Regions from separate parts of the Homo sapiens genome. Here region 1 is linked to region 2. Evidence: fine-mapped expression QTL. A gene starts in region 2. The other region holds a variant in brackets. All regions are shown on one strand. Distances are from middle to middle.

Region 1 (5,383 bases), 52 kb before region 2:
TGACCAGTTGTCACATTCATCATGAAGAACAATAGTATACTTATAGTTTGTTAAAGCCAAGGAAAATTCTTAGGGTTAAATGTCAATAAACCCTGTCTCTAAATGGCCTCAAGTGAAGTCAAGATATAGCCAATGTTCTGTTCTTATGTCCAAGACAGAGAGGCAAATCAGATCATTATCAAATCAATTCAAATCTATCTTGCTTGGAAGTATCACATTTTAGCTGCCTATCTTGGTCTTCGTTCTACCTGGTGCTGAAAAGAGGCATCCATATTCTTAAAGCATAGCTTCCATTCTATCTCAGATCCTTACTCAACTGATACAGAGAAAAATCCATAAAGGAATGAAGAAAAAGTGTGTATAGGATATAAATACTTGGAGTTACCTGGTTATTTCCTAAGGTAATAGAAGCCTCTCTGTATTTCCAAAAAAGCCTCAGAAAAAAAATATATATTGCTAAATGTTTATTACAGTGCTGCCATTCTCTGATTTTTATAATAAAAATGGCAAGATCATTCTAGATGAGTAGATTAGATCTATTTTTTACCTACTCACAAAATAAAAAGTCTGTCTGCTTAGTGGAAAGGCCCCCTCTGTGTCCTGCACTGAGTGGAAAGGCTTGTTCCAGAGATAACATGGTTAGTTTCCTGGTTACATGGTCTGAAGACAGTTATGGCTTGCAAATATTCCCATTCAATCATCAATTGGCTACTGCAATTGGAAAAAGTAGTGTGGGCCTTGGATTTATTGGGGGTTTGACTATTCTCTGGAGGCTTTATAAAATTTTTTTAGCATTCAATGAATAACACTGTGAAGTTAGAGGTTTAGTTCAGCACAAGATTTACCTGACTTTTGGTCTTAAAGCCATTTTTTGTTTAAAGCCATTCTGGTTTTAAAACCAAAATGACCTCCTTGGCCATCCCTGTGTTTTCAGCAAGTAGACCTAAAATCCAACAATTTGATATGAATAATTTACAATTATCTCCATTTCCCAACAGCCAAGCAAAAGCCTCACAGATTATGTCATCTTATCAAAAAAACTGCCTATAAGTACATATATAAGTAAGGGAGCTGATCAAAAAGAGATACAGATCATTTGAAAACTAAAAAGCACATTTAGGAGAAGAGATAAGGATATTAAGACATAGAATCAACATGCAATAAAGCCCAAATGTTTATGGGAGACTGTTTCATAGCCCTTTATTTCTCGTATGGAATTGTCACGCAATGTTAGAGATAGACAATAACTCCTAGGCAAATCTCTTATGGAGTGAGTGAATAAAATTCACCACGCTACTAACCTCTGCTGAAATAACTTTGGAGAAATACCACTGAAGTATTCCTTTCCATTTTTTGATAATCACAGAAGTGCTTCTATATATTAAGCAAAATTCTATCTGTAATTTCCAAATCGAACTCAGTTTTCTCCTCTTCCCCCCAACTACCATTCAACCATTGGGTAGGATGGTAACTCTCAAAGACCCCTCCCAGGGGGTCTCTGCATAAAGCTGTATATCCCCATCTAATTTATGCATTTGTTCATTCATTCAATATTTCTTGAATATCTATTATATAGTAGGTACCGGGGACATAAAACAAACAAGGCATAATTCCTGCCCTCAAGGAGCTAACAGTGGAGATTAACACATAAAAAGAAATTAGCCATAGAGTATGGTACATGCTTCCATAGAGGTTGGTCAGGCTTTGTGACAACACAGAGTAGGGACTTAAGGAGGTGACTAGAGAAACCTCTAAGAAAGGAAGACACTTGAGATGAATTTTAATGATCAAGTGGAAGTTAACTAGGTGATTAATAATAAAAGCAAAAATGATCACATTTTTCCTGTGCAGGCACTGAGCTCCTTATAGACATAATCTCACCGCAGCCTCCACCTCCCAGGCTCAAGTGATCCTCCCACCTCAGCCTCCTGGGTAGCTGGGACCACAGGTGTGTGCCACCACAGCCAGGTAATTTTTCATTTTTTTGTAAAGACGGGATCTCCCTATGTTGCCTAGGCTGGTCTCAAACTCCTGGGCTCAAGCAATCCTCCTGCCTCGGCCTCTCAAAGTGCCGGGATTACAGGCCACTGTGCCTGGCCTTCTTGAAAGATCTTAAATTGTACAGGAGAAACTTGAGGATATTTATATGCTAAGGCTCTAGTTTATTTATCTTTGATTTTCTTTGAGACCTGGTGTTGCCAGTTTAACCATTCCATTGAACAGGGGACTAAACAGCAGTTAGTGACAGGTAGTCACTACTCACTAGGTTTCAGCATTTATTAGCTGGTGAAAGCAAGACTTAGTGAGCAGGCACAGAAACTCTCATTCACCTGTTGATGTCTAGTCCTGCTCTCTGATCCTGGACACTCTGGTAAGCACCTTGCACTGAAAATGCACATAAAAATGTACACTGCAATGGAATGCCACCATATTTTAAAGACAGGACAACAGAGTCCTACATACAGTATGAAAGGGGGGATGTAGGGGCCTCAGGAAGCATGGGGCTCTGTACCTGTAGTTTGTCTATGGGAGTATTGTCTTTGGCTTGCTGCATTCTTAAACCTTGTTCCAGCTGGGGTGGTGGGAAGCACACTCTTTCCAGTCAAAATCATCCCTTGAAAGCTACCATTCCACCAGGGAAATTTTTACTTCCACCATCTCTTATGCTAATGAACACACCGTTTGTGGGGTAGATTTCAATAACAATATTTGAAGTGCTAAGTAACCCCCTCCTAAGTGTGGATCCCTAATTAGGATGTTTCAAATGCTAACTAACAACTCTTGGAACGTGGATGTCTGATTAGGGTACTTCAAATACCTCCTCCTTCCTCCCTCCTCCTAGGGTGTCGATTGCACGAAAGTATTTTAAAGTAAATCAGCACAGAGATGATGTCATCCCTACATAGGACTTGCTAGTGAAAACAAGAGAAAAAAGTGTCCCTTTGTGTGCGTGAGATACTCGTCACAAGGACAAGTAGAGACAAGCTTGGAGTGATGTGGCCCCAGTCATTTCCTCTTCCCGAATGGGTATGCAGATGATGAGTTAGTAAAGCATGAGTCTCTGTATCCCTTTGTCTGAAAACCCACATGACACATGCTGGCTCTACAAACACCACCATTATCCCTCATGACTTTTCCATAGCTGAGCAGTGCTGACGTAGAGGAGTCAAGGCGCAGACAGGCTGCCACCCTGAAAAATAAGAGCACTACCCGAAACAAAGGCCCCGGGTAGCATCATGATTTTATGTGGCTGGGCTTGAGACAGATGGCACATTCACTGGGCTCTGATTGGGAAAGGGTACTTATT[C/T]TGGGCTAAAGAGAAGACCCTGCCACCCTGGGCAAGCTGATGGAGCCAGGATGCCTCCCCCTGAGTGAGATGTGGCCTGTCTGTATTTTGTTTAAGTGTGACACCTTCAACTCAACATCACACTTCTGGGATAGCACAGAATCACTGAGGACCCTTAGGTGTCCCATGAAAGCTCTGGACCCAATATGCAGAAAAAAGAAAAAACGAAGAGCACATACGCATATACATACTTTTGTACATAATTACATAATTTCAGGAGGATTATGAACTCCCTCATCCCTTTCTAAAATATATTTTTTTGGAAATAGAGTCTCGCTCTCTTGTCCAGGCTGGAGTGCAATGACACAATCTTGGCTCACTGCAACCTCCGCCTATGGGTTCAAGTGATTCTCCTGCCTTAACCTCCAGAATAGCTGGAACTACAGGCGCTCGCCACCATGCCCAGCTAATTTTTGTATTTTTGTTAGTAGAGACAGGGTTTTACCATGTTGGCCAGGGTGGTCTTGAACTCCCGACCTCAAGTGATCTGCTTGCTTCAGCCTCCCAAAGTGCTGGGATTACAGGCATGAGCCACCATGCCTGGAGCTTTCTAAAATATTATGTGCCTTTCAGTGCAATCTAAAATTATTTTTTTTTAGGGCAAAATATTGCAATAAAATAAATAAATTTTTCATAATGTCAATTCATTTCAAATTGGATTTTAGCTTAAAATAAAGAATTTTCTGGTCTTGGGAATGTCCAACAGTGGCCTAAATGGTCCTGATTTCCTTTGTTACTGAACCAACCTTGGGTCCACGCACTGGGCTCTGCAAAGCCAATACTCACATCAGGATTGCAGCAAGAGAAAGTGGGAGATTTATTGCAGGATGCCCAGGAAGGAGAATTGACAGCATGTGGTTAAGATGTGAATTCCCTGACAGTTTACAGGTAAGGGACTTCAAAGGTGGGGAGCCAGAGGTGACAAGCAAAGCCATAAATCAATACATGAAGGCGACATATTGGTTTGACCTAAAAAGGGGGAACATCTCAAAGCAGGTATGCTGGGGTAGATTAGAAGATATTTTATTTTACTTTGAGACGAGTTTCACTCTTTTTGCCCAGACTGGAGTACAATGATGCGATCTTGGCTCACTGCAACCTCTGCCTCCTGGGTTCAAGTGAGTCTCCTACCTCAGCCTCCCAAGTAGCTGGGATAACAGAAGCACACCACCATGCCTGGCCACTTTTGTATTTTTAGTAGAAACGGGGTTTCACCATGTTGGCCAGGCTGGTCTCGAACTCCTGACCTCAGGTGATCCACCACCTCGGTCTCCCAAAGTGCTGGGATTACAGGCATGAGCCACCACGCCCGGCCAGATTAGAAGATTTTCTGATTTGAGATTGGTTAAGGAGCTGAAGCTTTCTCTAAAAATTTGGGGCCAGCAGAAAAGAATGTTAGCTCTGGCTCGTGGGTGTGACCTCCTCCAGGACCCCAGGAAGAAATTTAGATAAAGAATGGCGGTCAGAGTTCAGTCCTCAGCTTCCCCTTCTCTGAGGTCTACATTCTAGCAGATGGTATTTTCCATTCGGTGGCGTCTGGGTTTCTGAAAAACAGCTCAGGGACGCATGTTAAGATGTCGTCTTTAGTTTCTATAGTTTCTATAGTCACAAAACATTTTGTGACTCTAACTTCCTTGGTGATTGTTTTAAGCTATTACCTTTTTAAATGTTTTGTATTTTTTTTCATGATGTCTTCTGACAGAGGGTTGATATAATCTTTTTTTAAAAATTTTGAGTTCCCAGGTACATGTGCAGGATGTTCAGGTTTACATACTCAGCAAATCTTCTCGATTATAAAGTTCCTCATCTACTTCTCAAGGCTAGCTAGGTTCCTGGAACTTCCCTTGAATGAACTCTAAATTTTTCTTTCTTTCCATGCTTGGGAAGATTGTTGGGGTGACTGGCAGGCCCCTATGGGGGGTCCCTGCTCTGTCTAACCTTGTTCCTGGTAATGTTTGGCTGAGGTTGTTGCTGCCTGGCAAGGATGTTAAGGAAGAGATTCCTATACAGGGTGGGGACTGAAGAAGATGCCCTGCA
Region 2 (5,383 bases):
CAGACAGGCTCCCACTCTGTTGCCCAGGCAGGAGTGCAGTGGCACAATCTTGGCTCACTACAGCCTTGACTTCCTAGGCTCAAGCAATCCTCCCACCTCAGCCTCCCAAGTAGCTGGGACTAAAGGCACGCACCACCACACCCAGCTAATTTTAGTATTTTTAGTAGAGAGGGGGTTTCGCCATGTTGCCCAGGCTGGTCTCCAACTCCTGGGCTCAAGCAGTCTTCCTGCCTTGGCCTTCAAAAAGTGCTTGGATTGCAGGTATGAGCCACTGTGCCCAACTAAAATTTTAAAATATTTTCAATCTGTAATTAGTTGAATCTGAGAATGGGAAATTCACAGATATGGAGAACTAACTGTGTATCAGGACACAAACTAGCCAAAAGGAGGTTAAGCTCTACTGCTTCTGACTTCTGACCAAAAATTCTCTCAAACTTTTCATTCAGAGGGCCTCCCACTTGCCATGAAACAGAGGTGAGGGTGGAAGGACCACACAATCCAGTATAGTTCTGTAATCACAAGGATCTCACAACTAAAACAATTTTGCAAGTTCATCACTTAGTCTTTATATTACTATCAAAGCTGACTAAGCTTTTTCTGCCGTTAGACTTCTGCTGTTAGACATATTCTTAACGATCTCGAATATTTAATTGAAAACTTTAGTATCCACAATTCTATAACTTTGAGAATTATAAAGAACCTGTCTTTATAAAGGGTTTATTTACCTTCCAATTGTCTTATATACTCATCTACACCCATTTTATTCATTTAAATAGATTAAAATAATCCTTCGCAAAAAAAAAAAAAAAAAAAACAACTCTCATTTGTTTATGTACATCACAGGCATACCATTATATACGGGGATCTAGGATCTGTGCAAACTACAATCCACAGGCTAAATCTGGCCCACCATCATTTTCATAAATCAAGTTTCTTTGAAGCACAACTTCAGTCATTCATGTGCTCACATATTTGTTCAGTACCGTCTTTGGCTGCTTTTGAGCTACAATGGCAAAACTGAGTAGTTGCAACATAACCACTTGGCCTAAAAAGGCCTGAAATATTTACTGTCTACCCCTTTATAGACAGTTTGTTCATCCCTGTAGGTATATACCAGTTAATTCCCTGTGGACATGCGGTGGACACAGGCATTTTTTTGAAGTGTCATTTCAAGAGCATTATAAAAACTAGAAATAATTTTGCTTAAACACACTTTCAAAAGGCAAGGAGAATTGCAGATCAAATGTCTAAGAAAAAAGAAAAGTTTTTTTCCAAATGATTTAACAACCTGCTCATGGCTGTAAACTAACTATACCACAGTGAGGTCTTGCACAAATTGTTTAGCATTTTTTAAAGCATAATAAATATACAGACATCAGTGAAATTATTTTATTTCAGTAACCCCAGAACATCAAGGCTACCAAAGGCCAGTTGGTGCTAACTGCAGAAATCATGTTTTGCCCTTACTTGCTATTTCAGGAACTGATTAACACAAATAGTCTCAAGGTGTTCCTTCTAATTAGAAAATTCATAAGCTTTAGCCAGTGACTATCCACTTGGCTAATGGCGTTATCATTCCATGAGTCCTTGGTTCGAATCTTCGTACATACAGGAGGTTTCCCGCCAAATTTTTTCTCTATACTTGCTAAACAGAAATCCCAAACATAAAATACTCAAGGGCGAAAAGAAAGGGGCAAAGTGATATAGATTTGGATCTAGATCTAAATATAGATCTACAGATCCATCTATCTAAAATGTTTTGGAAGACAATCTGATGTGAAGAAATCTGGAGAATTTTCCCTAAGCGTCTGGGACAAAAATTAAAATCAACTGTATACAAAAAAAAAAAAAAGAAAAACTTAACGTATTCTTATGTAGTGAAATTCAGTAAGAGCCCAAAGTAAGGACCTACACATTCAGTAAAGCCTTTTTATACAGGAACTAAAAGGTTCACCAGGCCATTGTGTTGTTTTAATCACTCCGCCAGCCAACCAGGCAGTGAGAAACCCAGACTCAAGTGTGTTTTCTCTCCTCTCCGGGAAGCTTTATTTCCTTCGGGCAGAGTGGCCTCTGTACCGGTGGTTCAGAGGCATCCATCTTCCTCCCCAAATCCTATTACCAAAATGTCTTTTAAACACTCGGGTAAAAGCGTCTAAATGACTTTCCTACGGCAGGCCCATGTGCATAGATTTACGGGTGACCAGGTGGAACAAAAAGGAATAAAACCGCTTCTCAGAAGACAATTTTCCAACAAGGGACACCAAAAACTGGACAAAAACGTAAAGGCCCACTTAAAAGGCTTCTCCTCTTAGTTTAGGCTGCTCATTTACAAAGAGCAGGTCCACTGGTTCCTGGAGAACGACCTAGAGGAAGAGTCCCGACCCGGGGAAGAGCAGGCGCAGAGCCGACCCGGAGGACCGCCCAAGGGGCGGTCCCGGGAGCAGGGGCGGGAGGGCGAGCGCAGCAGGCGGAGGAGGCCGCGGGCCCCGTGCGCGCACTCACACACGTGGCGGGCAGGGCTGCGCGGCGTTCCGAGGAGCCTCGACCAGAAGCAGCAGGAAAAATGCGCGCAGAGTTGAGATGACCAGCGAGTAGCGGAAAGGGGAAGGGACGGTACGGGGAAAGGCATGCGATGGGAGCGGGCTGGCTTCTAGTTTTCCTTCCTTTCTCCTCCAATAACTCACCAAGGAAATCTCACTGAGAAGACGGGGGAAATGAAAGGAAATGGGGGAGCAGTGTCCACGAGCCGCTAAAGCCTCCACAGGAGACGGAGCACCGTACCTGCAGCTAGCTCCCCGGTCCCGCCCCCGCGCAGTGGACTCTGCGCCTGTGCCTGCGGCGGCCAGCGTGCCTCCGCTCCACGCCCTTCCCCGAGCGGCCTCGCGCAGGGCACGTGACTCTCCTTTCTCACTGTAGCCTATCCGAGCACTCCGATCTCCTCAGGCTCCTCCCCTCCCTCGTCTCCCTGGCGGCGCTGGCCTTGCGTCCTCGTGGTCTCAGCCGCTCGCTCCGCCCACACCGCGATTGGGGCCTGCTCACAAAAACCTTATTGGGTGACGCCTGCGCACCAGCTGCGCTTTGCCGTCTCTACTAGGATTTTTCTTTTTTCCCCAGATACACAGAAATAGAAAAGAGCACAGTTTTTAAGGGGACATCATTTTCACCCCGTTAACTTTCAAAGGCACGTAAAAACAGTGGCTTCCAAATGAGCTTCTCTAGCAGAAGGCGCTGCAGAAAGAGGGAAGAGGGGAGACCTAGTTTGCGGTGCTGCCTGCCACTTCCTCGTTGCCTAGTAACGGTTTCCACGGCAACCGCACAGTCAACGACGCTTAGCAATCCGGAGAGAAATAGGGTGTTTTCTTCCCGAGAGAGGACTGCTAAGAGGGGGTTAAAGGGGGACGATGTGAAGGAGAGAACCTGTGGTCCTTCAGAAGGCGAAGAAGAAAGAAAGGGGAAGCAGTGAAGAAAGGGACGGAGATACTGGGACAGGGAGAAAAAAGTTGTGGAGAGTAGCTTTTAAGGAGTCATTTGGTGGCCATGGATCCAACGTGCTCTTCTGAGTGCATTTATAACCTCATACCCAGTGACTTGAAGGAGCCTCCCCAGCCTCCTAGGTATGTGGATAAGCAAAGACTATCACTTGAAACAAGAATGGGGAATACTCAGTATTAATTAAGCATACATATACTGGAATTTTTAATAATAAATAAAATGTATTTTTGCCTCGATGAAGTAGCCTTGGAGGATAACTTGTTAGAGAAAAGGTCGAAATATCTAGGTATTCAGCATCTCACAGTTTTACAGAGAGGGCAGTCTGGCGCTGTGAGATGACCATTTTATTATATTACACTTAACCTCTTATTAATACGGTATGTGATTATTGTGTAATTTAATTATATGTGATATACAGCATAGTATGAAGTTTCATGTTGAAAAGAAAAAAATCACAATTCTATTATCTTGTTTAAGGATACTTGATGTTTGGTTTCAGGAGTTCGGTGTTGTATTTCTAACTGCACTACTCCCTCTCTAATGGGATAGGATAGGACTTTTCCCCCAAGATTTTTATGAAATATAAATTTACATTTGCTTTTGAGCCTCAGGTTTTTGATCAGTGAAACGAAATATCTACCACTATTAGGCAGTTTCTAAGGACTTTTTCAGATCTAATGGTTTAAATGGAAGGAAGAATTGGTGGATAGATAATGAACCAAAAAATATGTAATTGAGTTGAAATTTTACATAGGTCTTAGAACCTCTTAAATTCTCCAAATCTCAAAAACGTGCAAAGGAAGCACTTCAGTTACTCCCATCTGTAGGGACTTCTTAGAACTTACTTAAATCTGTGGGGAGCAAAGAAAGTAGTGGAGAAAATCTCATTTCTCCTAGGACTTGAAATGTTTCCTGTCTTTTACCATCATCCTTGTCCGTATGCAAGTCAAAACCACATTTGAAAAGGACTGGACTAAAAATCGGGCCTAGCAATTAATTGTCTTTGTGAACTTTAGAATAAAGTTTCATTTGTTTACTGATCTGTGAGATAAATGTACCAGATAATATCCAAGGCCCCTTTTAGATCTAATGGTCAATTATTTTTACTAGTATTAGGGTAATAGCTTCAACAAGTAGGCAGCTTCTTCAATTTTAAGTATCTGGTTTAAATTAGAGCAGTAACTGTATTACATCTCCATTAGCATATCAACATCTAGAGACTGGAAAGAGGAATGTAAAGTAAGTTATGGCACAGTTGCAGAATTTATTTTCAAATTTTCTATTGTTGCACCAACTTTTGGTTTCAAATTCCTGCATATTACATGAGATAAAACTCCTCTATAACAGATTGGTAGATTGTATTTCTATAGAATATTGAATTTGAGAGTTATTTTATTAGGTAGGTATTCTGTTCTTTGGCAAATTAAAAAGCTTTACTGCATCTAGACGATTTTTTTTTTCAAAAAAAATTTATAGGAACAGTCTTTATTCATTTGGCAAGCATTAATGGAGCCCCTATTATGTGTATAATATTGCACTAGTATATCTGTTCTTGGTGCTGTTGGAGTGATAGCACAGACTTCTTGGTTTTACTATGAAGAAATGAGTAGAAGAAAGATTTATGATTAGAGGAAATAGAGGCACCCAAATGTGATGCCAAAAGAATCATTTCTGTTAGGTTAAAGTCAATTTACACTGGCAAGATTCTGACAACTGCCTGGCTTTTGATCTCCCACGCCTCAGAGTTTACCGTCTTTTTGGGGAACTGAAATATGAACACTAAAATTTATCATTGAAAACCATAATGAGAGATGAAGATACTAAATGAGAACTTAGAAGATGAATGTATGTGACCAAAATCGGATGAAAGGCACTTTTCTGCAGTTGAACT

Evidence for each region.
Region 1: its variant is fine-mapped to the expression of THNSL1 in subcutaneous fat (GTEx, PIP 0.94).

The regions. Positions count from the first base shown.
Region 1 is chr10:25,066,018-25,071,400 of GRCh38, reverse strand. No RefSeq gene overlaps it. Among named protein-coding and RNA genes, the nearest start is that of LINC01516, 44 kb to the left of the region's middle. RefSeq lists enhancers at 2,530-3,088, 2,272-3,471, 3,089-3,648. The variant C/T (reference allele first, on the strand shown) is at 3,308.
Region 2 is chr10:25,014,091-25,019,473 of GRCh38, reverse strand. It overlaps THNSL1 (threonine synthase like 1), which reads right to left and starts at 2,862. Exons shown (of 3, transcript NM_024838.5): 1 at 2,782-2,862. It overlaps ENKUR (enkurin, TRPC channel interacting protein), which reads left to right and starts at 3,316. Exons shown (of 6, transcript NM_145010.4): 1 at 3,316-3,614. The coding sequence starts at 3,538. RefSeq lists enhancers at 2,141-2,220, 2,820-3,114, 2,425-3,187 and silencers at 2,471-2,550, 2,731-2,930, 3,261-3,310.